Homo sapiens: one gene and its partners. The protein of the gene in region 1 interacts with the protein of each later gene in a pairwise test. Each region holds a gene or a part of one and is shown in the gene's direction. Other genes may lie near its edges.

Region 1 (5,721 bases):
CTGGGAGGCCCAGGCGGGTGGATCGCCTGAGGTCAGGAGCCTGGCCAACATGGTGAAACCCCATCTCTTCTAAAAATACAAAAATTAGCCGGCCGTGGTTGCCAGCGTCTGTAATCCCAGCTACTCTGGAGGCTGAGGCAGGAGAATCGCTTGAACCCGGGAGGCGGAGGTTGCAGTGAGTCGAGATCGTGCCACTGCACTCCAGCCTGGGTGACAGAGTGAGACTCCATCTAAAAAAAAAAAAAAAAATAAATAAATACTGTTTTGTTTGGTCATAATTATAACTTATTTAAACTTCCACTTTCGGTCAGCTCAACCCATGCCACCTTTTCTTTGTTCTTCACTTACAAGTTAATAAAAAACAAAACCTAGTTTCTGCGTATGCAGAAACTCTGAAACTAGAGCAGGTAGAATGCTGGAAACTCTTTTCTTTCAAAAAGGTTAATGTGAAAATTAAGTGTTTCTTAGCCTCTTCTAGCTAGTTTTTTTTTTTTTTCAGTTTTTTTTTAAAAGGTAAGCTGTTTCATTGAAGACATAAAAATCCAGAACAGAGTTTTTTAAATCTGGAGATAAGATGGAATCGAGGAGGAATCTTTGAACCTCCTCAGATGGATGCAAAATGTTTTAGCCTTGTTTCCCATGGAAACTATTCATGTTTCATCACTTTCAAGAACTTAAAAAAAGTTTAAGAATTCACTTGCATAGAGGTCTTTTTAAGTTAAATTTTTTTATTGATACAAAATATTTTTACACCTTTCTGGGAAACATGTGATATTTTGTTACATTCATAGAATGTGTAGTGATCAAATCAGGGTATTTGAGGTGCCCACCGCTTTGGGGATTTATGATTTCTATGTGTTTGGAACAATTGAAAACTCCAGCATAGAGGGCTTTGGTTGCCTTCATACTGGTCCCCACCTTTCCAAAAGAAGGTAGCCTTCAATATACATGATACAAAAGTGCCCTTGATGCAATTCTTCGAAACAGTGATTGCTGAGCTAATTATTCCAGCCGTAACATGCTTGCTGGCCCGCAGCTTCTTCATCTGGCCAATGGGAATATAGATACCAGCCACTTTGGGGATCGATATGAGAGAACAAAAATGAGATTGTGTACATGTGCACACTTCCATAGGTGACACCTAGCAGAGGGTGGCAGATGATACAGGTAATGACCCACCTCACATGGTGCCCACTTGCTTAGTGACTAATCTGGCTGTCGGGGTTTCCCTCCCATAGAGCTTTTGCAGGAGCCACTGTCCATGACTTCTTCAACTGGCTGTCCGTGTTGGTGCTCTTGCCCGTGGAGGTGGCCACCCATTACCTCGAGATCATAACCCAGCTTATAGTGGAGAGCTTCCACTTCAAGAATGGAGAAGATGCCCCAGATCTTCTGAAAGTCATCACTAAGCCCTTCACAAAGCTCATTGTCCAGGTAACTTAGCTCCTTCAGAGAGAGAAGGAGACTAACTTCCTACCCACAACATCCCCTACCTGAGCTGACAGATATAGAGTGTCTACAACACTATTCTGGGCCTGGCATGGTGGCTCACCCTTGTTTTCCCAGCACTTTGGGAGGCCGAGGCAGGTGGATTGCTTGAGGTCAGGAATCTGAGACCAGCCTGGCCAACATGGCATAACCCTGTCTATACTAAAATGCAAAACATTAGCTGGGCATGGTGGCGTGCACCTGTAGTCCCAGCTATGTGGGGGCTGAGAAAGGAGGATCGCTTGAACCCCGGGAGGTCAAGGCTGCAGTGAGCTGAGAATTGTGCCATTGCACTCCAGCCTGGGTGACAAAGTGAGACTGTTTTTAAAAAATAAATAGATGAATAAACACTACTCTGTAGCTGCCTCTGGAAAAGGCCAAGGGAGGCAGAACTTTTGGGCCACCTGATAGAGTGACTGACCTTGATGGTTACTTTGACTTCCATAACATGCCACCTTTATTGGGGTGGAGGTGCTTCTTAAGACTGGACACTTGAGACCACTTTGTTCCCACTGCTGTCCTCAACACCAGTGGACTTGATAAAGTATGATCTACCCTTTCCTGCCTAGAGTCATCTCAGCCCCTTCTCCCTGGGTCCTTGCTAGGACCTTGTGTTTTCACTCTTACTGGTTTTCTTGGCCATTCAGTCATCCAGAAAATATCTACTGTCTGCTCCCTAGATATCAGTGCCTCTGCAGATAGAGTGAGTCCCACTTTGCCTCTCTGGGGGCTCACAGTCACATTTATCTCCTTAGAGCCCCTCTCACTTCAACCCCCTGGGTTTGTGTCCTAAATCGGTTCTGAGGATATGCTGATGGTTTCCTGTCTACTGTTTCCACAGCTGGATAAAAAAGTTATCAGCCAAATTGCAATGAACGATGAAAAAGCGAAAAACAAGAGTCTTGTCAAGATTTGGTGCAAAACTTTTACCAACAAGGTACGTTTCCAAGAATATTCCCGGGGCGGGGAGTGAACCTTTGCATCTGAACATGAAACTAAATCTTGCCTTCAAGGAAGGTAAATAGAAAGTCAGGGGAAAGAAATATTGGGAGTCCCTGAAAAATCAAAAGTGACCAGTGAATGCCTTTAGAAAACAAGTCCTTGAATGAATGCCAAATGCAGGTAAACAGTAGGACAGACAGACTCCCTTTTGCCCCATCCCAGGGATACATTATTTCTGGTTTGTTATTTCCATGCCTCTTGGAGAAGGCTTAGCTCTGCCTGCCGCTCTGTTCTCATTTTTGGAGAGACTTGTGGAAGTAGTCCAGCACGCCCTACGGGTGTTGGCAGCAAGTGTCCTCTCTCTTACTTTCCAGACTTTTCCAGAGTATTCCCCCTGCTCGGGCCCAGAGCATTCATGCCCTCTGTCAGGAACCTACCCAGGCTGCTTTGCACCTGGGTTGTGGCTTGCCCTTGCTTCTGGGGTGTACATGTATTTTTTTTGTGGGGTGCTAAAGACTGGAGACTAGAATAAACAAAGTAGATGTTTTTAAATGATGAAGGCTGATTTCAGTTGTCCTCAGTTATTCTAAGATTTCTAATAAAGGTGAGAAATAAGTCTTCAAGAGAAAAGAACTGTTCTGTTGGGGCCATACTGCATGCACCATGGGTGGTGTCTGCGCCTGTTCATTCCCACCCCCGCCATTGCCTCCCATTCCCCACTAAAAGCCAGTGTTGTGGGCATTTGTCATGTTTGTCATCCAGACCCAGATTAACGTCACTGTTCCCTCGACTGCTAACTGCACCTCCCCTTCCCTCTGTTGGACGGATGGCATCCAAAACTGGACCATGAAGAATGTGACCTACAAGGAGAACATCGCCAAATGTGAGTGGAGCTCAGTGGATTGGCCACTATGACAGGTGTTGTCTGGGGGTGACCTATTTATCCGTGTGAAGTCCCAGTAAGTGAAGGAAAGGACAGTAGGAGTCACCAAGCACCTGCCCTACATCAAGCAGTGAGCAACATGCTTTCACAGCAGAGGAAACTATGGCTTAGGAACTGAGGTGACAGGCCTGAGGTCCCACAGCAAGGGCAGAACTGGAACTTGAAGTCCATTTCCTTTGCCAGCTCCACACCACCTCAGAAAAGCTCAACAGATTCTAGAGGATTCCCTCTACATGCTTTGTTCAGATTCCTTTAGTCAATAACTCTAGGGGCCAGGCATGGTGTCTCAAGGCTATAATCCCAGCACTTTGGGGAGGCCGAGATGGGCTGGTCACTTGAAGCCAGGAGTTTGAGACCAGCCTGGCCAACATGGTGAAACCCTGTTTCTACTAAAAATAATACAAAAAAAGTAGGCATGGTGGCTCAAGCCTATAATTCCAGCCAAGATTGCACCACTACACTCCAGCCTGGGCAACAGGGAGATAGTCTGTCTCAAAATAAAATAACTTTAGGGAGACGACAACCCGATTTGAAGGAAGATGTGGGACCCACATAGAACAGATGTATTCACTCAATTAGTCCCTACTGTACAGCAGGCCCCATTTCAGGGCACTGGGGCTGTAGCTCTTGAACGGGCAGTGAGCTTGCATGATGCTCTGATTATTAAGAAGCTGTAATGTTTTTTCCAACCCAGCCATCCTTCGTTATTCTAATTACTCCTTACATATACTTTTGTATATCTCTGCTTCTCTCTTCTCACCCTCCCACCACATTAATTCTGAGCACTATATCTTAATACTCTAGGTATGATTACCCCAAAGAATCAAGTTAACTTACCACCTCCCACATTCTAGGCACTATACATTCATTCATATAACCATGTTTTGCTGGGATTATCTGGGGGATGCAGAAGGGGCTTTATAATTAGCAATGCCCCTTACTTTGACTTGCCCATCGAATCCCTCAAAGCATACTTATCATTAGTAAAAAAAAAAAATTAGACCATCGACAGCATGGTCTTTAGAGACAGAACTGGGCTGAGTCTACCCCTGAACAGTTGTGTGATTTTTAAAGCCATCACTTCATCTTCCAGCCTCATGCGATCCCACTGATTATGACATAGTTTCAGTGGTGCCCCTTGCTGCGAAGGAGGCTGAGAAGGGCTGTCTTGATTTGGGGCTGCCATCTGTTAAACTAACAACCAGGAATCTGTTTGTAGGAAAGACAGGATCTGGGGGAATAAATAACAATCTGTAGCCGTGGTGGCTCCATGCCCTCCTGACAAGATTCTTTGTGGTCTTTCAGGCCAGCATATCTTTGTGAATTTCCACCTCCCGGATCTTGCTGTGGGCACCATCTTGCTCATACTCTCCCTGCTGGTCCTCTGTGGTTGCCTGATCATGATTGTCAAGATCCTGGGCTCTGTGCTCAAGGGGCAGGTCGCCACTGTCATCAAGAAGACCATCAACACTGGTAGGTACACTGCCCTCACTTGTAGGCCTCACATGTAGTCACTGCATGGGGTGTGGGGGTCCTTTAGATTCCCATCTAGCAATGGCCTCTGCATGGAGTTTCTCTCTCAGATTGGATCAGCACCAGAAGTGAGGATGTCATTCACCTGGAAATGTTCTTGGCATCCTGGGTGGGGTCTAGGGAGCAGGCCCAAGTTTCCATTGCATCTTGGCAAGGTCCTGAGCAGGAGTTCATATCTAGAGAGCTGTGAGTCAGGCCTTCCTTCTTAGCGGGTTTCCTGTATGCTCAGAGCTTTACTGGCTCTGTCAAGACCCCTTAGAAAAAGGACCCCAGGTGTCTGCCCTCGCCCCCACCTCCCTTCACTCTTGTAAAGGAAATGTGATGCATAAATACATCAGCATCTAGAGGTGGCCAATGAGACTGCTGGCTAAGAGGATTTCCTGCCAAGTAGGGTGTCCTGGCCAATGAGAGCTCGCTAAGCCAATGACATCATCACTTCATGAAAGCTCAGTGAAATATAGCCAAGAAAATTCGCCCCCCACCCCAGATTGTCTTGGGGAACAGAGCAACTCTGGGTGCTTCTGGGAAATGCAGGGCCTGATCCGGTGCTAGTTGGGTGGAGGACTCAGTTGGCAGGCATGTTCCAAGCTGCTACAGTTTCTTGATGCTCTTTAAGGCAGAAATGAAGGTTGAAGGTCAAATGTGGGTGCTGACAGGAGACCAGGGCAGGCGAGGAAGCATGCTCTCAGCACTTTCTGGAAGGAGAGTGGTTACTTGGGTGGGTTCACTCTTTCTAACCTGACCTCCAGGGAATCTGTGTTTTTGTTTTCATAACACTTACCTGTATCCTTGGTTTTTCCATCTGAATATGCGGA
Region 2 (5,721 bases), on another chromosome or scaffold:
AGTTGGGGAATAATCCCTGTGTACCCATGGCACGCCTACACTTACCCTTTCTTAATTCTGACTACACTTGTAATTCTTAATTATCTGTGTTTCTCATTACACTGTACTCCATGAGGACAGGAGTTAGCTCTGCCTCATTTACTTTTTTTCATCGATGCATTATAGATGTACACAGTTTCAAGGTATATGTGTAATTTAATTCATTCATATAAGCCATTTACTTTGTATCATTTGTGAGTAACAAAGCACTCAGATAGGAGGCATGAATAAATGTTATTTTTTTAATTGTACATAAACGTGAATGCAAACGGAGGTACATTTAATAAAATAGACCATCCAAAAATCTTATTATGCTAATATGTGCATATATATGTATGCACACATATCATGGTTATTGATTTCTTAAGCTAAAATTAAAATTGGTACCATGACCATAAGCATATGTTATTTGATCACTAAGACAAGAAGACCTTAGAAGGAGAGAAATTAAAAGTCAGCCAAGAACTAAGCACTCTCCAGATAGATGGGCAAGGCCATGAGTCATCTTTGTGCAGAGAATTGAGCCCTGATAAAAATCAAGGAAACAAATGGTGAAAGCACAACTTGTTAAGACAAGTGGATGCATCATTCACACTGATCCAGGTGAAACCCCAAATAACAGGATTTCTTTATCTGAGATGGTTTGATGACCTAACAAGTTAAGAAAACCAAACCAAAACAAACAAGAAACGCTCAATTCCATTTTGGAGACAATATTGAATGCCTCATTTAGGGAAGCAAGTCCATGCAGCAAAAAAGAAATCAGATGTGCACTTCTTTCCCAGCTTTGCCAGTTTTATGATAAGTTCTTTAGTCTGATCTCAGTTTCTTTACCTGTTTAAAGAGAATAATCATACCTAATAGGGTGGTTGTACAAAGTAAAGGAGATTACATCTCATGTTTATAAGCACCACACTCAGAAGAGCTGTCTGCTTCTCTGCCTCGTAGGTTGCAAACCTGAGAATTTCACATTACATTAGCAGCTCTGACATAGTCTCATTTATACCCTATAAGCTCTGATTCATACAATAGTACGATGAGAATGCCATGCTATATCTAGAATTGCTGAGAAGACTAGATGACATTGTGTGCTGAAGGAACTTTGTGAAATACAAAGAACTACTTAAACAAGTAGTCAGCAGATGACAGCCGGTGTGCCAAATCCAGCCCACCACCTGGATTTTTGTTTGTTTGTTTGTTTTATGACTCAAAAGCTAAGAATGGTTTTCACATTTTTAAATAGTTGAAAAAATCAAAAGATGAATATTTCATGATGTGAAAATTACATCTAATTCAAATTTCAGTGTCTATAAATAAAGTTTTATTGGAACACATCCACACTCGTTTACATATTGTCTATGGCTGCTTTTGCACTACAATGGCGGAGTTGAGTAGGTGTGATCGAGACCATATGGGAATATTTACTATCTGGTTCTTTACAGAAAAGGTTTCCCTACTCCTGACTTAAATTAAATATAGTGACAAAAAGCATAAAGATTTTGGAGGTTTTTTTTGAGATTAAAAAAAATTCATAAGTTATTGGCGAAGTGCCTGCCATATAGTAATGGCTCAATAAACAGATGTTGCTGTTTATATTCCTTCATTAGATTATTAATTCAACAAATAGTTATTGAGTGCATACTCTGCCAGATACTGCTCCAAGAACCACAGAATACAGCAATGAACATAATTGGACAAAATTCCTTTGCTCATTGAATAGACAATAAACAGACAAATAAAAATAAGTAGAGTATATTATTTGGCTGGGAGAAAAAATAAAGGATGAAAGAATAGAGAGTTTGAGGGTAGAGGTTGCAATTTTTAGATACAGTGGCCAGGGAAGACATCACTGGAAAGGTGACATTTGAGTGAAAACCCGAAGGACACAAGGGAGCCCAAGGGGATGCTGTGGGGGTGGTGAGGAGTATTGTTCTGGGCAGGGGAATAATACAAAAGCCTGGAGGCAGAGAGAGCTTAGAGTGTTCGAGGAACACCAAGGAGTTGATGGGCTGGAGTGGCGGGGAACGATGGGGAGAATAACAGGAGATTAAATCAGAAAAGTGCGGGGTAGGGCCTTGAAGAACCATCTAGGGACTCTGGCTTGTACTCTGAGTGGGAGAGGAAGCAAGTTTTGAGCAGAATAGTGGCATGGCCTGACTCACATTTAATCCAGATCCATCCGACTGCTCCAGTGCAAACACCCTGTAGCACAGACTGATTAAAATTTTATAAGTTGATTTGCAACATCAATTACAGCTTAATGGTGTTAAATTGGGGGAATATTGCATATTCTCTCCATGGAAATTAATAAACCATTTGATGGGTACACAGCACCTTCCTTACATTATTTAAGACAATGTCAGAATGATGAAACTGCTTCTAATTTATGGACAAACAATATGATATCTCAGAATCCCACAGGGTAGTTCTAACCATTTAATTTCTGCGGATTCTCACAACTGCTTCAGCTTTTCTAACAGAATCTTTGGACTAACATGGCCTCTTTTTTTGATACAAATATTTTTGTTTGGACAGTGATTGAGACTGACCTGGACAGACCTAGAGAATGCCTCTTTGCTGTAAGATTGTTCCTCAATCTTTCTTTCATTACTACTTCCCTCTACCAAGGAACCTTTGTAGACCTGTTTTTTTTTTCCTAATTTCCACCACAGGAACATTTTTTATTGTGCTAAAATATACATAACATAATATTTGTCATTTTAGCTATTTGCAAGTATACTATTTAATGTCCTTAAATGTATTTACAACATTGTGTAACCATCACCAGTATCTATACCCAAAATTTTCTCATCATCCCCCCACATAAACTCTGTTCCCGTTAAACAATAACTCCCTATTCTCCACTCCCCCGAGTCCCTGGTAACTGATAGATACCATGCTTTCTGTCTCTGTGAAATTGCCTATTCTAGGTACCTCATATAAGTGGAATCATATACAATATGTGACCTGTGTCTGGCTTATTTTGCTTAGCATAATGTTTTCAAGGTCCATCCATGTTGTAGCATGTATCAACATTTTACTCCTCTTTATGGCTGAGTAATATTCCATTGCATGCATATGCCACATTTGATTGTTTGTTCACCTACTGATGTGTTTCTATATACATATATGTACATCTGTGTGTGTGTATATATGTGTGTGTGTATATGTGTGTGTGTGTGTATCTGTGCTTTCTACATAAAAAGTGCAAAATTGTTTTACCACCAACCCCAGAATGAATTTTCGCCTGCAAGAAGAGGGGGGATCTCACCCTCATTGATAACGCAGGTTCTCAGGTATAGATCCCCAGGTTTCCTGCCAAAAATGAGGTACATGTGTAGGTAATGTTTATTATTATTATTATTATTATTATTATTATTATTATTATTTTGAGACCAAGTCTCACTTTGTCACCCAGGCTGGAGTGCAGTGGTGTGATCTCAGCTCACTGCAACCTCTGCCTCCCAGGGTCAAGTGATGCTTGTGCCTCAGCCTCCCGAGTAGCTGGGATTACAGGCGCGCACCACCACGCCCAGCTAATTTTTGTATTTTTAATAGAGATGGGGTTTCGCCATGTTGGCCAGGCTGGTCTTGAACTCCTGACCTCAGGTGACCCACCCTCCTCAGCCTCCGAAAGTGCTGAGATTACAGATGTGAGCCACTGCACCCTGTCAGTAATATTTATATGTAGATAAACCACTTAGAGTGAAGCCAAGGATAAGGAAAATGACCTCAGAACACATAAGTATGAAAAGTCATCTTTATTCCCAATGCAATAGAGTTATCTGTATTTTATTTAGTCTTCACAATTGCCAACAGTTTATAAAGGAATGAACTCAAGAATGTTTGGAAAACAGCTGTAAGCAGTCATGTCAGGACCAAGCCAATGGAGCCGATATTCTAACTAAACTTTTGAAAGCAGTGGCAATTCATGATGTTACTATTCCCACTGAGTCAAAAATATTTCTGGAACACAAAGAGAATGATTAAGTAAGAATGTAAAATAGGAAAAAAAATGAAATCAATGTCACATCTGAAGATCAGAGGAGTGGGAAGCTGGTACCTGCTAGGGTATGCATGGTTGTGTCAGCATATGGCATGAGTGTTGGTGTCTAGTTGGAAGGCCATATGGCAAGGTATCTGGCACAGACTCACCTAGGTCTTATTCTCCTGTGGTTGCCCAATGCCATATTGTCTCATTCTGTAAAGAAGAGATTTAAAAGATTGTTGAACAGTGTTAATAAAGTCAGCCATTTCAAATACATGACCAGATTGTTTAACAGTGTTAATAAAGTCAGCCATTTCAAATACCCTTCAAATATCATCAAAGACAAGTAGAGACTGAGAAACTGCCAGAGTATGAGACTGCGGAGATGTGAAGACTGAAGACCACATGGGGTCCTGGATTGGATCCTGGAACAGAGAAAGGACATTCACAGGAATACTGGGAAATTCTGAATAAAGCCTATAATTTAGTACTGTCATATCAATGTTAATTTTTTAATTTTAGTCAATTGTCCCAGGATTATACAAGATGTTAACATGAGGGGAAGCTGAGTGTGTTGTGCTTCTTCTGTGAGTCTAAAATTATTTCAGAATAAAAAGTAAATGAAAATAAACAGCAACCAAGTTTCCAGTAGCTCCTGAGTATCAGAAGCGAACTTGAGACTGGCAAATGCTGAAGCATGGGGAGAGTGAGGGAGTGTATATTTGCATCATAGCAGCTTTGATGCCTGCCATAAGAGTGACTCCTGTCCTTGTCTCCTTTCCGATTCTTTTGCAGGGTGTGCTGGGTGCATCATGTAACTGGCATGTGGGTGTACCCTTTCCTGGAACACATTGGCCCAGGAGCCAGAATCATCTTCTTTGGGTCTACAACCATCTTAATGAACTTCCTGTACCTGCTGGGAGAAGTTCTGAACAACTATATCTGGGATACACAGAAAAGTAAGTATTGTCTGAGGGAACATAAAACAAGAGAATTACTGCCGGCAACAGTCTATGCAGAGACTGAGGGAAAATTCCACTGTAGCCTCTTCTTTTAGCCTTCACACAGGATCTCCTATAAAGAGCTCCATTTTTAAAACTACAATATGAATTTAAGAGCTGCTGACAGTTACCTGAAAGTTTTACTAGTCACTTGGTCTTGTTAGCTAGTAAAACCTCCAAATCTAAAGAGGAAAGAGGCATGTCTATAAAATTTTATAGGGAAAAATGTAGTGTTAGCAAAAAATATATATTAGGGAAATTTGTCCTCATTAACAACACAATGCTGCCTTAGTTAGCTAAAGGGACCTCAAATTAAATAGATACATTATTAAATGTAACCAATCTCCTTTAAAGTCACCCAGATCTCCACTTTCTATGTGGGTGCAGTCACCTGGGAGAGGTCTTACTACCATTCTGCTAGAGCTCTATCTAAGCAGTGTGTGATGCTCCGGCCACCTTGACTCACCAGTGGCTGTCACGGAAAGTCTGAAAGTGGCAAAGAGCTACAAGCAGTAAAAGATAATATTTCGTGGCTGGAAAAACTCTTTTAACCTGTGATTTGATTTCTCTTTTGTTTCCATTTATGGCAGAGCCTCCATCTTGGCAAGGCACGTAATCTTATCCAAGCTGTGCAAAACCTGTCCAAAGTGTATGTACAATAACATAAAAATTGAAAGGTGGAAAAAGCGCCAG
Region 3 (6,272 bases), on another chromosome or scaffold:
ATGAAGGCCCTCAGCCTCTTGGACAGAAGCAGCATAGGCTGTACCTGCTGAAAGTGTCCCCAGACCCTCTATATTCTTCCTTCCTAACTCAACCCCTATCTTTTTTTTTTCTCCCTTGCATGGAGCACACCCTATTTCTATCTGTCTTTTTATGTATTTACATCCCATAATAGATTCGTCACCAAATCTCTATCTAGGATAATAAGACCCGGAAAAAAGGATAAGTAGATATAGTCACTCTTAATACAGATTCCAGAGCCTTTGGGGTGCTGGGAAGCATGGTGCACAGAATTTGGGCCCTTGGACACCAGCAGAAACAGAATGTCACTTGCCTGCAGTTGCTCTGGTTGCTGCCAATTAATAAAAGGGCAGCGTAAAATCTTCCTGGGAAGATTCCACTATGTGCCACTATTAGAGAGCCATGGACTGCTCTGTGTGGCCTCCCCTGAGATTCAGAGGTCAGCTCCCACCCAAAGAGTGGGAGCTTGGACCATGCTGTCGCTAAGTGCTACATCCTGGGGATGGAGAGGCCTTCCTAATATCTCTTGAAAATACTCCCCAGGGGATCTTGGATTCGCCCTATAGCATCGTCTACGGTTCTTTGAATTGCGGAGACACAGGAGAAGATAGGACACACCTTGCATTTGTCCTGGATCTATTTCCTGGTAAAGAAATATTATAAACCACTAGCTCATTTTACTCAATCTTCTTTTTTTGTTTTTCATTTTTGGCCTCCAGTAGCCTGTGGGACAACATATCCCATCAGTAACAATGGCTGGCAATAGAAGGGATTCTTCCCAGGACTGGAGTAGGTGGAGAGCAAATTTGTCTCCTCAAGAACATGTATTGAAATCTCTGAAGCAGAGGTGTATACAGTTTTCAGAACTCTCCAGGTGATTTTGATGTACACACCTTTTCAACTCTTCATTACTTTGTCATTTTAAGCTCCACACTGGCATTTCTTACATTACTCTAATAAGTAAAATTGAATAATAAATATTTTACAAAGCTCTTCATTAACTTGCATTCCAAATTGAAGGGGAAAAGTGATTCTTTTATCCATCCCCTCCCCCTTGCTGATTTGTTTGCAGAATACAGGTGCTCAGTATTTTATTTTATAAAGAAATAACAATTTCTTTATTTGAAAAAGTATTGCCTAGACAAAATATGTATAATGAAGCTGCCAGAGTGTGATGTGGCCACAGCTGTACACAATATACATTTGTGAGCTCTTAAATCGTGGGTTCTGGAATAAGATAGTGTCATTCGCGGAAAATTGAAGTAGTAATTGTGCTCACTGATTGTATGAAAAGTGAAAACAGTGCTGTTACACAGAAAGATGAATTCTATTGGTCTCTGCTTAGAAGCTGCTATGCTAAATTAAACCTGATACTAGGCCTAAGGGGATTGCATTATTTGAGGAAAAAAGAAAATACAGGTAAACCCTGACAATTCTCATCCTCTTTCTGTTTTTCCTTTATTGCCATTTGTTCTGGGAACAAGGGTATACTATTTCTCAGAGGTTCTTTCCTGGCACGAGGGTCTAGGCCAGGCCATAAGCTCATCTCAGCTTCGTTCAGTTCCTGGCCATTCATGGATCCCTCTGTCTCACCTGGTCTGGTAACTGGCTTCTAAGGGAATCCCCAGTGAGGTTTGAGCTACCCAGTCCTGAGAGCCTGGGCCAGTAATTTTCCATTTCCAGGCCTCAGTTGTTTTAATTCAATGTCAATAAATTTTGGTTAAGAAATGAAGAGTTCAAGAAATAAACCAGATTTTTAAAAATAAAAGAGCTCTTCTAGAGCTGTCAGTCAATGGTTCAAAGACAATTGTGTCCTTTCTGAGGTCTTTAGCACAAAGCCGCTAGAGTAACACTTTTCATTTCAAGAGAGAATCCAGTGACATTGTCCCTGACTTCACACTTCCTGAAAACCACTTGGCAACTCAACACCAAGAGCTTCCGGTTCTTAGCAACCTGTTTCACTTCTTGAAGCTCTTTACTGTTGGAACTCTGCGTGTCTAGGGATCCAGACTTCCGGGTTAAAGAATCGTAAGATGATTACAGTTGGAAGTTGGACCAAAGCTAGGGTAAGCAGCCATATGCCTGGTCTTTTCCATGCTCAAGGCAGCCTCCCTTCAGGTAACCGTGTCTTCACTTGGATTACCAAATTTGAAGTCAGATTCCCCTCTGGTTTCTAAAGAATTTGAATTGGGCATCACAGAGCTACGGATGCTCTCTTGCTCCAGCTCAGCAGTAATGGAGGCAGCAGGAGCCTGCAGCACAGAACAAACTCATTACCCCAGCAGCCACCTTAGCCTGGCTTGGGACCAGGAACTGAATATGGGCTCTAACAGTTCTATGACGCTATGAATCTGAAATGTTATTACTGTGCTTTGCATGGCATATGAAATTACATTCTAGCTCACCAACTGGTCTAAGATTGCCCTGGGCAAAGAGATGTTACTTCTCACTCAATTCCCTGTTAGGAGCACAATAGTACTAAAATAAATAAACAAATGAGCTCGGTTTCAGAAGGCCTAGATCTGAATCTTGGATGAGCCACTTAGGGGTTGCATAAACTTCAGTTTCCTGATCTGATCTGCTTTGGCCAGCACACAGGTCAAGCGGTTTGTGCTAGGCACATGGTAAGTGATGGTCACAGCATATCAGGGGGTGTGGAAGCAGCAGGCTCTGCCTTTCCCTGTCCCTCATTTCTCCTTGACTTCCTAGGGTGTCGTACTTACCATAGCACATGATGTGGAGAATGCTAGAAGAGCAGTTGGGTGAAGCAGGGCCACCAAATAGTCCTTGCCTCCTGGAGACCTCTGGAAATCCAGATGAGTGTGGTCTGAGGTTGGGCCTCCCACTGTGCTTGCTCCTCTCAGGCCTACCCAGCGCTGCCTCTGAAGCCTAACTCAGGGCCCTGAAACTCCCCCTTGGGGCTTCCCTTCTCCCCAGCCCTCACTCTTGGTGCCCTGCCTGGCTACCATGGTAACAGGTTCCAGGGTAACAGAGGAGGGAGCTGGGTCCTGTTTACTCCCAGTCCTGCCGATGAGGATTCTGACCGTAGACACTGAATTGTCCCGTACCTATCCGTGCTCTTTCTGTGTTCTCACCAGGGCTGAGCTCGAACTGCCACCTCTGCCAGCAGGACCATGTGTACCAGCTTGACCACTTGTGAGTGGAAGAAAGTCTTCTATGAGAAGATGGAGGTGGCAAAGCCAGCGGACAGCTGGGAGCTCATCATAGACCCCAACCTCAAGCCCAGTGAGCTGGCCCCTGGCTGGAAGCAGTACCTGGAGCAGCACGCCTCAGGCAGGTGAGAGGTTCAGTGGGGAGGGACCTTGCAGACAGCCCCTGGGTCACAGCTGTGGGGTACTTTCCAAGGAGAGACAGAGCCCAGTCGCGGGCTTATTCTGGTGTCAGCTCAGATGGGGAAAAAGACAAAGACAGCCGGCTGGGTCAGAGAGTTCTTGCTTTTAATCCTAGCAATACCACTAACTCCCTGGGTGACCCTGAGAAAGTTATGTTCCATCTTTGGGTCTTAGTTGTCCACATTAAATGAAGAGCTGTAATATCATCTATGTCCCTGCAATCTCTGACATTTAGAGTGAGTTGGAACTGAAGGAAGGAGGCCATGAGGTCCATTGGGGAAAGTTTTAATCTAGGAGTTGGGGGAATGCAGGGGGTACAGCTATGCTCTGTTCCTAGATATGTTTAGTGAATTAATCCAATTTGATCTGAATACATAAACATTTATTGACCACCTGCTGTGTGCTACGAACTGGCTCTATATAGCTAAGTAGCCTTGTAAACTTGGCAAGTCTGTTTCCCTTTCTGGCTCTCAGTTTTTATATTTACAAAATGAGGGGGTTGGTCTTAGATAATAGATCCAATCCACTCTAGCTCTATTATCTATGCACCTGTGATAAAAAGATTTAGCTTTGAGCAAAACTTTCTTTAGGAACTTAGAGCCCAGGGTCCCACTCTTTATAGGAGCTGCACATCTACCACAGGGCAAAGAGTCCTTGAGGCCAAGGGGACGAGGCCGTCTAAAGTCCACATGCCTTTCCTCCTTTTAGATCATGATTGGGGACTGGGACTACAGAAATTCCTCCCCAGACTACCTCAAGTCCATCTGTAGTGTCTGTGCAGGCCTTTTTCCTGTGTCCTTGGATTCAAGAGAGGCCAGTAAGTGGCTGTGCTCTGGAGATGTAGCCAGAACATGGACACAAAGGCTGGGTTGTTCACGTGTATGTGTGTGAAGCTTCTCATGGTGCAGAATGGTGCTGAGGGTGGGAACAGAGGAGGCAAGATGTGGGTAGGGAGCTTACGTTTGTACTCTTGTCCCAAGACCTGGAATTATTGGAGTAAACCTGCCTTGTGAAAAAAAGACAGAAAACCAGAGGTTGGCTGATTCATGTCAGTTCCATCAACTCAAGAAGCATCTATTGGGTACCTGTTATGTGCTGAGCACTGGCTCTGCCTCTAACTAGCTGTGTGTACATGGATGCCTCTCTTACTATCTGGGCTTCTGTCTCTTCTCAGTGAAATAAAGGGCTGACTAGATGCTTCTTAAGCTCGCCTGCCCCCAGATCTGATATTTTTGAATTTAAGATGTGAGGCCTAACTTGATGTAGGTGAAGCAATTCTGGGTTGGTTTGATGTAAAAAGGTGTAGAAGGAGACTGAAAACATAAAGCATTTGAACTGCCTGGTGGAAGAGGTGCAGATGCCTGGAAACTTGAGTGCCCAGGATCCAGAGTTTCGGGGCTGAGCTCAGCAAGCTCATGTCTCCTCTTGCTTCAGAGGTCAGCTCCTCTTACTCCTGGCTGGTGACTTGTGGCTCCCAGCTGGCCTCAGGAAGAGCTGAAGAACTGCTGCCCATGAGCTTATTTGTGCACAGGCTCACTCTGTCTCTAAACAGGCAGATGCCCTGCAGCTCTCACCCAGCACTGGGGGCGGGGAACCTCTCCTGGTTCAGTACCAGCTAGGTTCCTCTGACCTGCCAACCCCACCTTGGGCCATTCTGGGTACTGTTCTATGCTCATGTGATCAGGCTTTCAGGGGTCAGAGCCAGGCTTGGCCTCACCTCTATCCCATAGCCTGGGTTGAGTGGTGCTTGGCATATGGGAGGTGTTGAATGGTGTCTGTTGGATTGAATTGAGTTCCTAATCAGAAGTCCTTCAAGGCCATCATACAATGGATCCAGAAAGGGCCAGTGATGAGGACAGGGACAGCCCAGTGGACATCTGACTGCCTGTGAAGCCTCTATAACAGAGGCCTGGAAGAGGCTCATCTCAGGGAAGGAAAGAACTGCCCTGGAGGTCAGGAGTGCTGCATCACTGAAAGTGTGCAGGCAGTGGTGGGGGCGGAGTGAGTGGGGCTTGCCTAGATGAGCCCCAGGCTACCACCCACAACACTTCCTGAGACTGGGACTCTAGAAAGCCCAGGTTACGCCAAGTGGCCTCTGTGCATGTAAGAGAGAGAGAGAAAATATATGTGTGTGTGTGTGTGTGTGTGTGTGTGTGTGTGTGTGTGTGTGTGTGTGTGTGGAGTGGCAATGGGAATGAATACCCTCTTTTCCAGTCCCCACTGCAGGGCTAGAGTGGGATCTAGAGAAGACTTGTCAAGAGACTGGGGAGTGTTCTTTGTGAAGATGTAGTAACTAAACTTGGTAGTTCCTCCTAAAAGCCAGTTGATCCTACCCATCTACCGGTCTGTCCATCCCATCATTCTCAGTGGTTTACTGAGGACCTACAGTGTGCCAGGGTCTGTGCTTGGCACAGTTAGAGGCGTCTCTTCTCCCCAAAGTAAGCAAGATGCATGAGTTAGATGGTGTATGTCATCCTTCTTATTAGAGTCGCAGGAGGTCACAGAGGAAGGACCCTTACTGGACGCCAACACACTACATTTCACAAATGAGAAATGAAGCCCAGAGAGGGGGGGATGACCCTGCACAGCGCCCAGGTGCAACCTTGAGTGCATCGGGCTGGGGGGCAGCTGAGACCGCAGGAGGCACGCTCTAGAGCACTGCTGGATGCCAGATGGCTCCGGCACTGGCTCCTGAGGATGCTGCTCGGGTCCCAGGGGTGCTCACCAGGAGGAGGCGAGAGCAGGCCGGCCTTGGAGTGCTAATGAATCCACAGGGCAGTAAACACTGCCTCCATCTCCAAGCACGGGCACACAGGCTTTTTTTTCCCTCTCAGAGCTTCTCAGGGCAGGCTTCTCTGGGATGCCCACCTTCTCCACCCCTCCTTCTCCTCCCGGCAGGT
Region 4 (5,653 bases), on another chromosome or scaffold:
TCCTTAAACATACCTTTCTCTGTGAAGTTCTCCGAGCCCGCTGTGAGGGAGTGCTCCCTTCCCTGCACCCCAAAGTGCTTTGTTCATAACCCTCCTAGCATCAACCTGTCCTTATGTAGTAAGCCATTTGTTACAATCTGTCTTTCCCACCAGACCAGGCTTCATTATGTGTGCTCTGCCTGGTGCACCTCATTGAATGAATGAGGATCGGTTTCACAGCCTCCTTCACCACGCCATCTCCTCTGGAAACACATCCAGAATCATACACGCCCAGATTCTAAGTCTTGGATGGGGCTTTGGAAATTCAAGAAATTAATCTACCAGTATTTCAGTTCTCTGTACAAGCACCAAATGTTCCCCCTACCTCCCTCAAAACTCAGTTCACCCACTTGGCAGAATTGTCTTTAGCCAGAAGGCCCCAGACATCCCGCCCCACTTTGCTGCTATGATCACATTTCTATCTGGAGCCATCGTTTTTACTTGTGGGTATTCTTGTCACACCTCCATGAGTATTTCTAGTACTGTATTTTCTATTCAGGTCCTGAATTCTGTGGAAAATTCTGTCCTTGCTGGGTTCAGGTTGGGTAGTGGTGGGGCTGAGAATTGGACCAGAATGGACTTAGCACTCAGCCTGACCTCACTCAGCCTCTGGCATCCCCAGGTGAGGTCCCAAGCCCCATTCATTTGTCAAGGGAGACTTATGGTACCATGCAGTTAAGGTGGGCTCTGCTGGGTGCTTATAGTCGGACTGAAGTCCAATTAACATGCTCCTCCCACTGCCATCCTCAGCCATAGCAGGCTGCACCCCTTCCTCCCATGACAACCCCAGCTCTGGAATCTAGCCATCAGTTCTCTGTGCCCGGAATCAGACTTTTTGGCCCCAATGTCCCGCTCGTCTCTTAAAGGGCCACACTTCAGCTTCATGTCTAGGGAGGGCGGGGGCAGGATCCAGGAGTGGAGGTTCTGGGAGGTGGGCCTGGAAAGGAGGCACACCAAGGCCAGGAACACATGCTGAGTCCCACTCCACACTTCACTCCACCTTCCCTTCATACTGCCTTGGCGTGCCTGGCATAGCATTCACCTGTCTTTATCAAAATCCTTCCCATCCTTCAAGGCCCTTCTCATGTTACCTCTTACAGCTGTTTCCCTGATTTCCTCGTTATAATTAGTCTGGCCCTCCATCCTCAGAACCCTGATAGCACTCTAACTGCCCTAATGACAGTGGCCACCTTCGCTCTATATCATTGTGTAGGTACATGCTTGCCCTGTTCACCAAAAGCTCTCAGAGATCAGTAGGAATCCTGCTCATTTTGGGGTGCCTAGCATAAGAAATTGGTTGGGGTCTAGTCTCAGCTCTAGCAACTAACTGGGTTGGCCTCCATGTGTCCCCCAACTCTGTGAGCCTCATGCCTCTAATTTATTTAATAAAATGTTAGATGAGAGCCGGGTGCGGTGGCTCACACCTATAATCCCAGCAACTCAGTAGGCTGAGGTAGGAGGATCGCTTGAGGCCAGGAACTCAAGTGTGCAGTGAGCTCTGATCACACCACTGCACTCCAGCCTGGGCAACAGAGCAAGACCCCATCTCTTTTTTTTTTTTTTGAGACAGTCTCTCACTCTGTTGCCAGGCTGGAGTGCAGTGGCACGATCTCGGCTCACTGCAACCTCCAACTCCCTGGTTCAAGTGATTATCCTGCCTCAGCCTCCCAAGTAGCTGGGATTACAGGCACGTGCCACCACACCCAGCTAATTTTTGCATTTTTAGTAGAGATGGGGTTTCACCATGTTGGCCAGGATGGTCTCGATCTCCTGACCTTGTGATCTGCCTGCCTTGGCCTCCCAAAGTGCTGGGATTACAGGTGTGAGCCACCACTCCCGGCCAACCCCATCTCTTAAAAAAGTTAGACTAGACCGTCTGTAAGGTGCTTTCCAGCTGTGAAATTCTATGGCTCTGTGTATGGAAGGAAAAGGGAGGCTGGGCTCTGACCTGTTCATTTAGCCCCGGTCTCTCATGTGGCCCTCTGCCGATGCAGCTCCCAGATACGACCAGGCCTGGGGAAGGAGATGGTCTGATGAGGCCAGCACTGGGGACTAAGGACGTGGAGTGAGCAGGCCAGCCTGTGGGCCAGGCCCAGGTTGAACCATGTTGCTTGCCTCAGTCTCTTCACAGAGCCCTCAGAGCCCCTCCCTGAGGAGTCCAAACCTGTGGAGATGCCCTTCCACCACTGCCACAGGGACCCCCTTCCGCCGCCGGGCCTTACCCCTGAGAGGCTGCATGCACGGAGGCAGCTATATGCTGCCTGTGCCGTTTGCTTTGTCTTCATGGCTGGGGAGGTGGTCGGTAAGTTGGGGAGCAGCCCTTAAACCCCATTCTCCAAATACCTGCCCAAGCCACTCTCCACCCAGAGTCCCAGGAATGTTCCTGGGTGCAGATGCAGAGATGGGGATGGCTGGGATAGGGGAGCTGGGTGCCCAGGACTCAGGAAGTAGGAGGGATAAGGGACAGCAACAAAGGGAATTCCAGCCGAGGTCCGGGGCCAGTAGGTCAGGGCTGACTTCTTTTAAAAACCCTATTTTCTTGTTATTAAAATAAATCATTGTAGAAAATAAAATACAGATGAATGAAAAAAATAACATAACAGTAGTTAATTATACCTGTAGTCCCATCACCTGAGAAAACCCCAAATCACATTTTTGGTGTATATCCCCCAATTTATTTTCCATGCCTATACACACTACATGATATTTTCTAAATGGAAGCAGACTCCATCATTTCACCCTGGCAGGCGGGTATCTGGCACACAGCCTGGCCATCATGACCGATGCAGCCCACTTGCTGGCGGATGTGGGCAGCATGATGGGCAGCCTCTTCTCCCTCTGGCTCTCCACCCGTCCAGCCACCCGCACCATGACCTTTGGCTGGCACCGTTCAGGTAAGGCCCCTGCATGGCCCAGTGACTCTCCAATCTTGCCAGAGGGCACCCGTCAGGGTCCCAAGCAGGTCTCTGACAGCTTGTCTCCCCCCCCACCCGCAGAGACTCTGGGGGCTTTGGCCTCTGTGGTCTCCCTCTGGATGGTCACTGGCATCCTCCTGTACCTGGCCTTCGTCCGCCTGCTGCACAGCGACTACCACATCGAGGGGGGTGCCATGCTGCTGACCGCCAGCATCGCAGTCTGTGCCAACCTGTTGTACGTCCCAGTATGGAGCAGGCACCTTGTGGGGCCCAGGGCGAGGGGTCTTCCTCCAGGATGGGAGAGCTGGCTCTCTCCTCCCCACCAGACACACAGACACGCACACACAGCTCTCCATGGGCTGCCCTGCGTGTGCCTGAGAAGGGTCTGGGATAGAGACCTAAAATTCAGTCAGCAGATCTCTGTCAAGGGCCTGCCATGGGCCAGCCACTCTGATGAGGGCTTTCATCAACATGATTGCATTTAAACCTCACAGCCACCCCATGAGGTAGGTAGCATTACCCCTAGTTTACCATTAATGCAGTCAATCCCAACAGGTGACTTGCCCAAGTCACATATCTATTTAAGTAACAGGGCCAGCTTCCGAATCCACATGTGTGGCACCAAGTCTGGTATTCTTTCCCCCAGGCTGCATTGTTTATCTCTCTTGCAAAATGCTGTTTTCTTCCAGGGGCTGGGAAAGGGCTACTGGGGAGGTGAGACATGGAGATGGGGGTATAGGAGGCCAGGAGCAGGGCCCTAGGCTGAGGTGCTCTGCTTACCCCTCAGAATGGCCTTTGTGCTGCACCAGGCTGGGCCCCCCCACAGCCACGGGTCTAGGGGAGCAGAGTATGCACCGCTGGAGGAGGGGCCTGAAGAGCCCCTGCCCCTGGGGAACACCAGCGTCCGGGCGGCATTTGTGCACGTGCTGGGGGACCTCCTGCAGAGCTTTGGGGTACTGGCTGCCTCCATCCTCATCTACTTCAAGGTACCATCATTGGAGACCTGCCCCAGCCTTCCTCCCCACAACCACATCCCAGCCCACTCCTTCCCAGGTCCCAAAGCTTCCTTCCTCCTCCCTCCAGCTCCTCCCTCCCACCTCCCAGGACTCTCCCAGACATGAGTCATGTTCCCTGTCCCCTCTTCAGGGTTTTGAGGGGCCTCTCAGGTCATGTTTGTTCAAGATACCCCTAGATCTTCCTCTGAAAGGTCCCTGGTTGTTGGGCTTAGGGGTCTCTTTCTCTGCAGCCTCAATACAAGGCAGCCGACCCCATCAGCACCTTCCTCTTCTCCATCTGTGCCCTTGGATCCACCGCTCCCACCCTCCGAGACGTTCTTCGAATCCTCATGGAAGGTGAGTCGGGCACCACAGCTCCCCATCCCTGTGGCCCTCTCTGACTTTACTCTCGCAGTGGGCCATCACTTTTTTCTTTGAAGATAGTACGGGAAGAAGGCTTGGCTCATGGGGTCTGCTGCTGGAACAAGGATTTGGGCATAGGGTGAATTGTAGGGGTCAAAAGGAGAGTGCATACAGGATAGGGGAGGTGGAATCCAGTGGTGGGGGTGCTGCTTCTGGGCAGGAGTAGCCCTAGCAGTAAGGCATGACTGGTGCTGGTTGCAGGTACCCCCCGCAATGTGGGGTTCGAACCTGTGCGGGATACGCTGTTGTCGGTGCCAGGAGTCCGGGCAACCCATGAGCTGCACCTGTGGGCCCTTACGCTCACTTACCATGTTGCCTCTGCACACCTGGCCATCGGTGAGTCACACTGGCCCCAGCTAGTTACTACCTGGAACATACCCCACCCCAAACATGGGACCATAGCTTGAGTTACTGGAATTGTTTCAGTCTTTTTTGATCTGTCTCTGTTTCTCTGTGTCTCTCTCTCTCACATAGACACATACACACACACACACATGCACGTGCGCTCGTGCATGTTGGAGACAAGGAGTCTCCATCCACTGGATGCAGTGTTCTGGGGGCAGTTTCACCCTCTTTGAAGTAGCACAGGGAACCAACAACCCTTTAAAAGATCATTAGTACCTACAGGTCTAGTGATGGGGCACAGTTAGGTAAATTACAGCACCTCCACCCTGAGGTATCACATAACTGTTAAAAATGATGCTTGTGAAGACTGTACAGCAACTATGAAAAATGTTTATGGTATAATGCTGAGAAAAAAGCTGAATATAAAATTGCATCTACATTATGATTCAACTATTAAAAATATATATGGTGAGTCATGAGCTGACAAAGGATTTTTGAGTTTCTTCCAGATGCAAGAAGCAATCAGAGTCATGCAATTTGTATGCCAAAAATATTATAATTTGTGGGATATTTGATGGAAACTCTAGAGGGACAATGAGACAGATATTTAACAACTGGATTGTCCTGGGAAATCGGGTGGTATGGCTGCTGAAATGTTGAGCTGTATGTTGACACTTAATGACAGGAGAGAATAGGAGACTGGAAAGAGTTTAGTGTGTTAGCATGGTTGATTGGGGTGAGTCTCTCCAACATTTGATTTGACACTTTTATGCTGTTCATACAATACAGAAAGAAAAGCAGGCTTCCATTCACGCCTGGCTTTAATGCTGTGCAGCCCCTTTCCCTGTCCTTATCTCAGTCCCTGCCTGTTCTTTCTCCCCCGGGATGGATGCCGCCTCTTATCACTCTCCCACAGACTCCACCGCTGACCCTGAA
Region 5 (6,265 bases), on another chromosome or scaffold:
AGATGTCACTTTCTTTTATTTGTTTATATTCTTATTTATAGATTATTCTAATGTTACTGGTAATTAAATACACTGTATTATCTATATATGCATATATTATAAGGCTAGAGTATAGTTAAGATCATTTTATTTCTTATTACTCTTTTAGGTATTGCCATAAGTAAACCTTTGTTTAGAGTGCAAACTAAGCTACCTTATACTGCACTTATTACATCCACCTACCCAGTCAGCCAGCCATGAAGCAAAGATCCATGAGCATCCACCATGGTCAGGTCTATGTACTATAATTCCAGACATTAGTAGTGAAAAATATTTGAAAAGTGAAGAATTCTTAAATATTTTAAAGAAAAACCAAATATTTAAATTTTTCGGCTCACATATCTCTGAAGAATCTAATGTCACCTTGAGAATAAGGGATTTGAGAGCTAAATGTTTAAGACAGTATGTAAAGTAAAAAAGTAGAAAATGTTCCTAATTAGTATGTCCTAAGAGAAAGATTAGAAAACGGTCAAATATAGGCCCTTGGGTTTATAAGCTCAAAGTGAAACCAGTCTATTAATGAATAAAACATCCTTTCCTGATTAAATATTATAAAACTTATATTTTTTAAAAAATTTACTGATGATATAACCAAGGAAATGAGATTCTAGGTTGAATTCTTTTCTGAAGTCTGAGAAATTCATGTTGATTAAGTTAGTTTTTTCTCTTCTTCTTTCCATAGAAAAGTAAGGAAAATAAATGATGAATTATAAACTAATCCCTCCTCAAACTCCAAATTGACAGCAATAATGTTAATAATAGTCAATTTCATGTCAAGAAGAAAGCTTAATATAATTGAAATGGAAATGAGTATTTAAAATGTAGAAACCTTTTCATATGTTTCAGGCAAATTATTTTATTTTATTATGTATGTTTGTGCTCTTTGTGGGTACCACACTGTTTGTTTTAAATATCATTTTTTTCCTTAAGATAATTAGTGTTCATTTGAACTTACTGAATTAACATTTTTTATATTTAAATGAGATCAATAACATTTTTATTTCTTCTCTCTCTTTTGGCCTCAGTTAACCTTTGTTTAACGTATTATTATTTAATATTGAAAAAAATACCCAACTTTGCCAGGTAAGCAAGGGATTTTGTTGCATAAACAATACGTAGTTTTTCTGCTTACCTGACATAGCCAGACATTTTTTCAATATTAAATAATATATTGAGAGAGAGACTGAGGAGAGAGATGACAACTTGACATAAATGATATAAATGTGCCAGATTCTTGGCTGCACACTCTAATCTATAGGTACATTATTTGAGGTAGAAAGTCAAATGTTCTTCTTGCCTGTGAGAGTGGGAGGATTCTGAATTCATATAATAGCAAGGAGTTCAGTGTCACTGAAGTTATCACTGCAAATGGAAGAGTAGAGAAATAAGGGTTTTTAGGTGTCTAAACAAAGAGTTGGGATTTTTATTGTCTAGGAGATGAAGAACTATTGGTGGATTTTTGAGCAGTGATGGAACATGGTCATTTGCAAGGCAATATCACTCTTGGAACTCTGTGGAGATAAATTTGATCAGGCCAGACCTGCCTTTACAGGTCTTAATCTTATGTCAAATTTTTTTTGGGAAGATGCTCACAGGGTCACTCTGCAAAACTTTTCCAGCCAGATCCCCAATTTAAAGTTATTCCAATGAGAATATAGAGAATAGTCTAGGTCAGTTACATAAACCAGTTTGGACTTTGAAAAATGAAATGTCCTATTTTTATACATTGCTAATAAAAACAACAAGCTTATGACTGCTTCCTAAAAATTCTAGGCGACGTCTGTATTGTTTTAGTTTCTAGTACATTTATATTAACACTTTTTGTTTTAGAATAGTTCAAAGAAAGGGGCACCATTTCATTTTATGTTTTCCACCTGTAAAGTAATAAAGAACTGTCTACATTTCATACAGACTTTCATTTCATCTTTATGCGACTCCCATGAGTAGGTATTATTATCCTCATTTTAAAACTAAAGAAGCTGATTCCCAGGTTAAGCAACTTGGCTTTCATTACAGAAAGAGCTGGAATTTGAACCCAAGTCTCTCCAACATCAAAATCCTTTCTTTCTAATATATCACCCTTCTCCTTGATAGCACTTGTATAGGTGGAATGTTGTTTTTCCTCTGTACACCTTCTTTATAGAACATTTTCTTCATGTTACCTAAAGGCATGGTGCAAATTAAAAACCTGCGAATATCTGCATTAGGATAATTCAGCTTACCTAATTGTTTAGGTCATGTAGCCCCTCGTTTCCTCCATAATAATAGAATAAAGAGCCAGAGGAGTTCTGCTTTCCCATGACTTACATCACTCTGCAGACAATTGGCAGCCAGGAGACGGGCAGCTGCCGCAATCTTCAGATTTCTCTCTATTTAAAGTTCAAAGAGACGCTGGATAACAAAAGAAAGAGGTAAGCGTGGCCTGACCTAGCCACCCACCAACAGGAATAATGGCTGAAAAAGGTAAGATTTAAGGCATAGGATTCTCTTGGCAAAAAAAAAAAAAAGGCTTCTTGACTTTGGTTCATTTATGTTTCTTGGTGTTTCCCAGTCACTCTAAAAAATGTGATATCTATGCTAAATGACCATTAACCATATATGTTAGTGTGGCTGCAAAAATGCATTAATTATGTAATCTATGGATCAGGTCTATAGGTTATGAATAATTTTAAAATGATCAACAAAGGAAAAGAGCTTAATTTTGTTAATACTTATTTTGAAAGGTGAGTTAGAAATCAGTTCTCCTGATTTCAATTCTGAGCCAGAATTGAAGACAGTTAAGTTCTGTGTCAGACCTGCTAGTAAATGGCTATGTGAGTTTGCAGAAGTCCCTATACCTCTCTGAGTCTGTTTTCTGACAGTAAAATGAGAATATTGGGCTCAGGCATCTATTCCACACCTAAAATTTTTGTTCCACATCTAACTTTTTTCTGGTTTTTAAACATTTTTTTGTATTTATATTTTATAGTTATATAAAATAATTGATTCCAATTTGTCAAAAAGTTGAATATATACTGTATCTAAGAAATGGTTTTTAAATATTAAACAGGAATTTTTGCTTTGAATCTTGACAATGACCTTGTGAAATATGCATATCATCATCATCCCCATTTTATAGATAAGAAAATGGAGACACAGCAGTTTAGTAACTTGTTCATGATCGCTAAAGAGTGGTGGCACCAGGTGTTTAACCTGGACAGTCTTTTCCAGAGCACAGTGTCCTCAAGAACACTTCCAGCTGTAACTACTTTGATATGCTCAGAACTGGACAAGAGAGAAGCATTTTAGAATTACACTTCATGTTTAAGAGATGTTTTGTTCTTATTTGTGCTAGTAATGTAAGTGACATATGCAAAGTATGTTGTGCTCTTACGTATTTCTACTTCCAAACAATTCCACAGGTATTAGTAAAGTTGAAAACATTAGTGTTAAAAAAACAATGGAATGTATACTTTGGGTGTTAAAATGCACAGTTAGTGCTACTGGTACTATTTTACAAGGAAAGTAAATAATGAGATACTTTTAGGGCTTTGTGATATGTAAATTTTATTAAAATATGCATGTATAAAATATAAATGCACAATTAAAGGGTTAATATTAATTTTCAAATTCTTTGAAATTGGGAAAAATATAAAGCCACATACCTAGACAGTTCAAAAAAATTACTGCTATGTACTTCCATTGTAATGGTACCTTAATTCATAAAAAGGCTTTCGTCCAAATGAGAGTAAAGGGCAACTCATGTTGTTTGCTTTATCCTTAAGCAATACCACATGTCAAGTAAAGAGAAGAGTTTTCCATTTAGTGCTTAATGCCTTATACAAGGTCACAGTGAGATGGAGAAACAAGAAAAGCATGTTGAATTTTGTCAGTTAAGAGAGACTCTAGCATTCTTGGAAAAATTGATTTAAAGTATTAAAATTTATTTCAACTTCAGAAAGTTTGCTTTTATAAAAGTGTCTTCTAATTTTAAATGTGTCTCATCTCCTGATGATTTTATTTTAATAGCATTTTTAAAAATTTCACATTTTAAAGTGATGGAAATTGTAATAGGAGTATAATTGCTAAGAATATGCATTCTCTCTTTTAACTAATGGCATAAGATCTAATTATGCTTTGCAGTTAAGAATATATCTGAGTCCTTAACACAGGGACATTAATTCCATAGAATGTTTTTCTGCGCTCTTTCTAAATCTTTTTGTGTGATGTAGGTGTGGATTTCTGTGTGTATGCCTGTGTATGTTTGCTTGAAAGAACAAGAGTTACATGCAGTGCATACTTTAAAAAAGATACTTGTATAAATTGCTTTTTACAGGTAAGAGTACAAATAGGAGGCACAGAAGGAATCATATATAACAAACGCCATTTATGTGTGTGTTGGATTATTACTGCCCATTGATTCAGGTTCAGTGCTGGTTGTTATACTGAACAATTTTTAAACAATAGAAATTCTTTTCTGTAGTCAAGAATGGTTACATAATGTATGATACTTTCCTTTTCCCTGTGATATTTAAAATTACATTCAGCTATTGAGGCCAAGGACAGTTCTCAATACCTTTCCTTGTGTTATAATTATTTACTTTAGTGGGAATTGCCTCAGAGTTGTATTAGATTGTTTTTTATATAAATAGCTGCTGTATATGTTATTGCACAAATGCATGAATGTGTTCTGTATACACTAAACACACACGGTGGTTAGAGTTTACAAAGCTTTGCACATATGTTATGTCATTTGATGTTCAAAACTATTCCAGGAGGTAGAGAGCACAAGTTTCATTATTCATATTTTACCAGTAGGAAAGTTCAAGCCCAGAATTGCCAAAGGTCACATAACAGTAAAAGACCCATGGTTTGATTCAAAATACCCAGGGTTTATGACAGTCTCACGTATTCTCTGTAGAAAAGAAAAAATAATTATGTATGGGTATAACTAGAGAGTGTATGCTTTTTTCTTAATGTTACCAAATTCCTTTTATTCTCTTGACACAGAAAATTTAATATGAAAATGACCAATATAATCTGTTTTCTACGGTTTATTTTAAAGCGGGGTCTACATTTTCACACCTTCTGGTTCCTATTCTTCTCCTGATTGGCTGGATTGTGGGCTGCATCATAATGATTTATGTTGTCTTCTCTTAGAAAGGTAAGGGTTTTAATAATTGAATGTTTATTTATAGTCTAAATTACTCCAGAAACAATCTTTTCTATTTTACTAATGGAATGTTTTGTCTTTCAGGCAAGAAGATATCAGATTGACATCATTTAGAAGAATTAAGAAAACTATGAACATGACTGATTATTAAATGTCTCATGTTAAACAATGCAATGTTTGACATCACTTTACAAACTTGGATCATAAACTGGCACTTTGGTATGCATAAGAATTTCTTCAGGACAATAAGAAATTATGAGTGAATTTCTCTATATTCTGAGTGAGAAAAATGTTTAGCTGTGATGAAAAATGCATGTCATTAAAAAAAGTTTGATAAATTTAATCACATTACAAAAAATTATCCCCCCTTCCCTCTGGAAAAAACTATAGAGAAAGTGGGCTGAGGCTGTGCAAGGTGGCTCATGCCTGTAATCCCAGCACTTTGTGAGGATCCTTTGAGCCCAGAAATTGGAGACCTTCCTAGGCGACAGAGAGAGACCCCATCTCTACAAAAAAAAAAAAAAAAAAAAAAAAAAAGAAAGAAAATGGGCTAGAGATAAAAACAGACAATTCAGAGAACATATAATGTAAAAGTACACTTACTTAATCTCTTGTTCACAAAAAGAGAAATGTAATTAAAACTACACTGAGGAATTGTTGCTCACTTATCAGATGGGAAAAAAATAAAGATGTTTGACAACATATGAGTTGGTAAGACTGTGTGCAATTAGGCATTCTCATACATTGTCTTTGGGAATTCAAAATGGTACATTTTGCGGGATGTTTGGCAGTACATATCTATCAAAATTACATATATATTTAATTTTTGACTTAGCTATCCCTCTTCTAGGAATATGGCAATTTCCACAGGTACATGAGCAAAAATACAAAATGGCTCATATACAAGGCTATTTATTCTGGCATAATTTGTTTAGCAAAAACCTGGAAATAAGCCAAATATCTATTAATAGGGGATTAACTGAATAAACTGTGGTATGTCTACATAATGTAGTACTTACGCAGTTGTAAAAAGGAATGAAAAGGACTTTTAGATACTGATATGAAGAGATCTCC

Evidence for each region.
Region 2: the proteins of SLC34A2 (region 1) and AIG1 interact in binary tests that used the Homo sapiens proteins (3 or more experiments, as listed by UniProt).
Region 3: the proteins of SLC34A2 (region 1) and RTP2 interact in binary tests that used the Homo sapiens proteins (3 or more experiments, as listed by UniProt).
Region 4: the proteins of SLC34A2 (region 1) and SLC30A3 interact in binary tests that used the Homo sapiens proteins (3 or more experiments, as listed by UniProt).
Region 5: the proteins of SLC34A2 (region 1) and STRIT1 interact in binary tests that used the Homo sapiens proteins (3 or more experiments, as listed by UniProt).

The regions. Positions count from the first base shown.
Region 1 is NC_000004.12:25,668,409-25,674,129, forward strand, and holds part of SLC34A2 (sodium-dependent phosphate transport protein 2B), read left to right. Parts: intron 1-1,238; coding exon 1,239-1,434; intron 1,435-2,329; coding exon 2,330-2,425; intron 2,426-3,192; coding exon 3,193-3,313; intron 3,314-4,678; coding exon 4,679-4,846; intron 4,847-5,721. UniProt on the Homo sapiens protein: Involved in actively transporting phosphate into cells via Na(+) cotransport.
Region 2 is NC_000006.12:143,328,460-143,334,180, forward strand, and holds part of AIG1 (androgen-induced gene 1 protein), read left to right. Parts: intron 1-4,822; coding exon 4,823-4,986; intron 4,987-5,618; coding exon of another isoform or gene 5,619-5,636; exon of another isoform or gene 5,637-5,721. UniProt on the Homo sapiens protein: Hydrolyzes bioactive fatty-acid esters of hydroxy-fatty acids (FAHFAs), but not other major classes of lipids. Show a preference for FAHFAs with branching distal from the carboxylate head group of the lipids.
Region 3 is NC_000003.12:187,699,010-187,705,281, reverse strand, and holds the start of RTP2 (receptor-transporting protein 2), read left to right. Parts: upstream 1-2,724; 5' UTR 2,725-3,153; coding exon 3,154-3,317; intron 3,318-6,270; coding exon 6,271-6,272. UniProt on the Homo sapiens protein: Specifically promotes functional cell surface expression of olfactory receptors, but not of other GPCRs.
Region 4 is NC_000002.12:27,255,441-27,261,093, reverse strand, and holds part of SLC30A3 (probable proton-coupled zinc antiporter SLC30A3), read left to right. Parts: intron 1-2,159; coding exon 2,160-2,341; intron 2,342-2,763; coding exon of another isoform or gene 2,764-2,786; coding exon 2,787-2,933; intron 2,934-3,035; coding exon 3,036-3,189; intron 3,190-3,741; coding exon 3,742-3,940; intron 3,941-4,200; coding exon 4,201-4,306; intron 4,307-4,573; coding exon 4,574-4,708; intron 4,709-5,633; coding exon 5,634-5,653. UniProt on the Homo sapiens protein: Probable proton-coupled zinc ion antiporter mediating the import of zinc from cytoplasm into synaptic vesicles and participating to cellular zinc ion homeostasis in the brain.
Region 5 is NC_000003.12:155,289,857-155,296,121, reverse strand, and holds STRIT1 (sarcoplasmic/endoplasmic reticulum calcium ATPase regulator DWORF), read left to right. Parts: upstream 1-2,438; 5' UTR 2,439-2,489; coding exon 2,490-2,502; intron 2,503-5,083; coding exon 5,084-5,178; 3' UTR 5,179-5,182; intron 5,183-5,275; 3' UTR 5,276-5,895; downstream 5,896-6,265.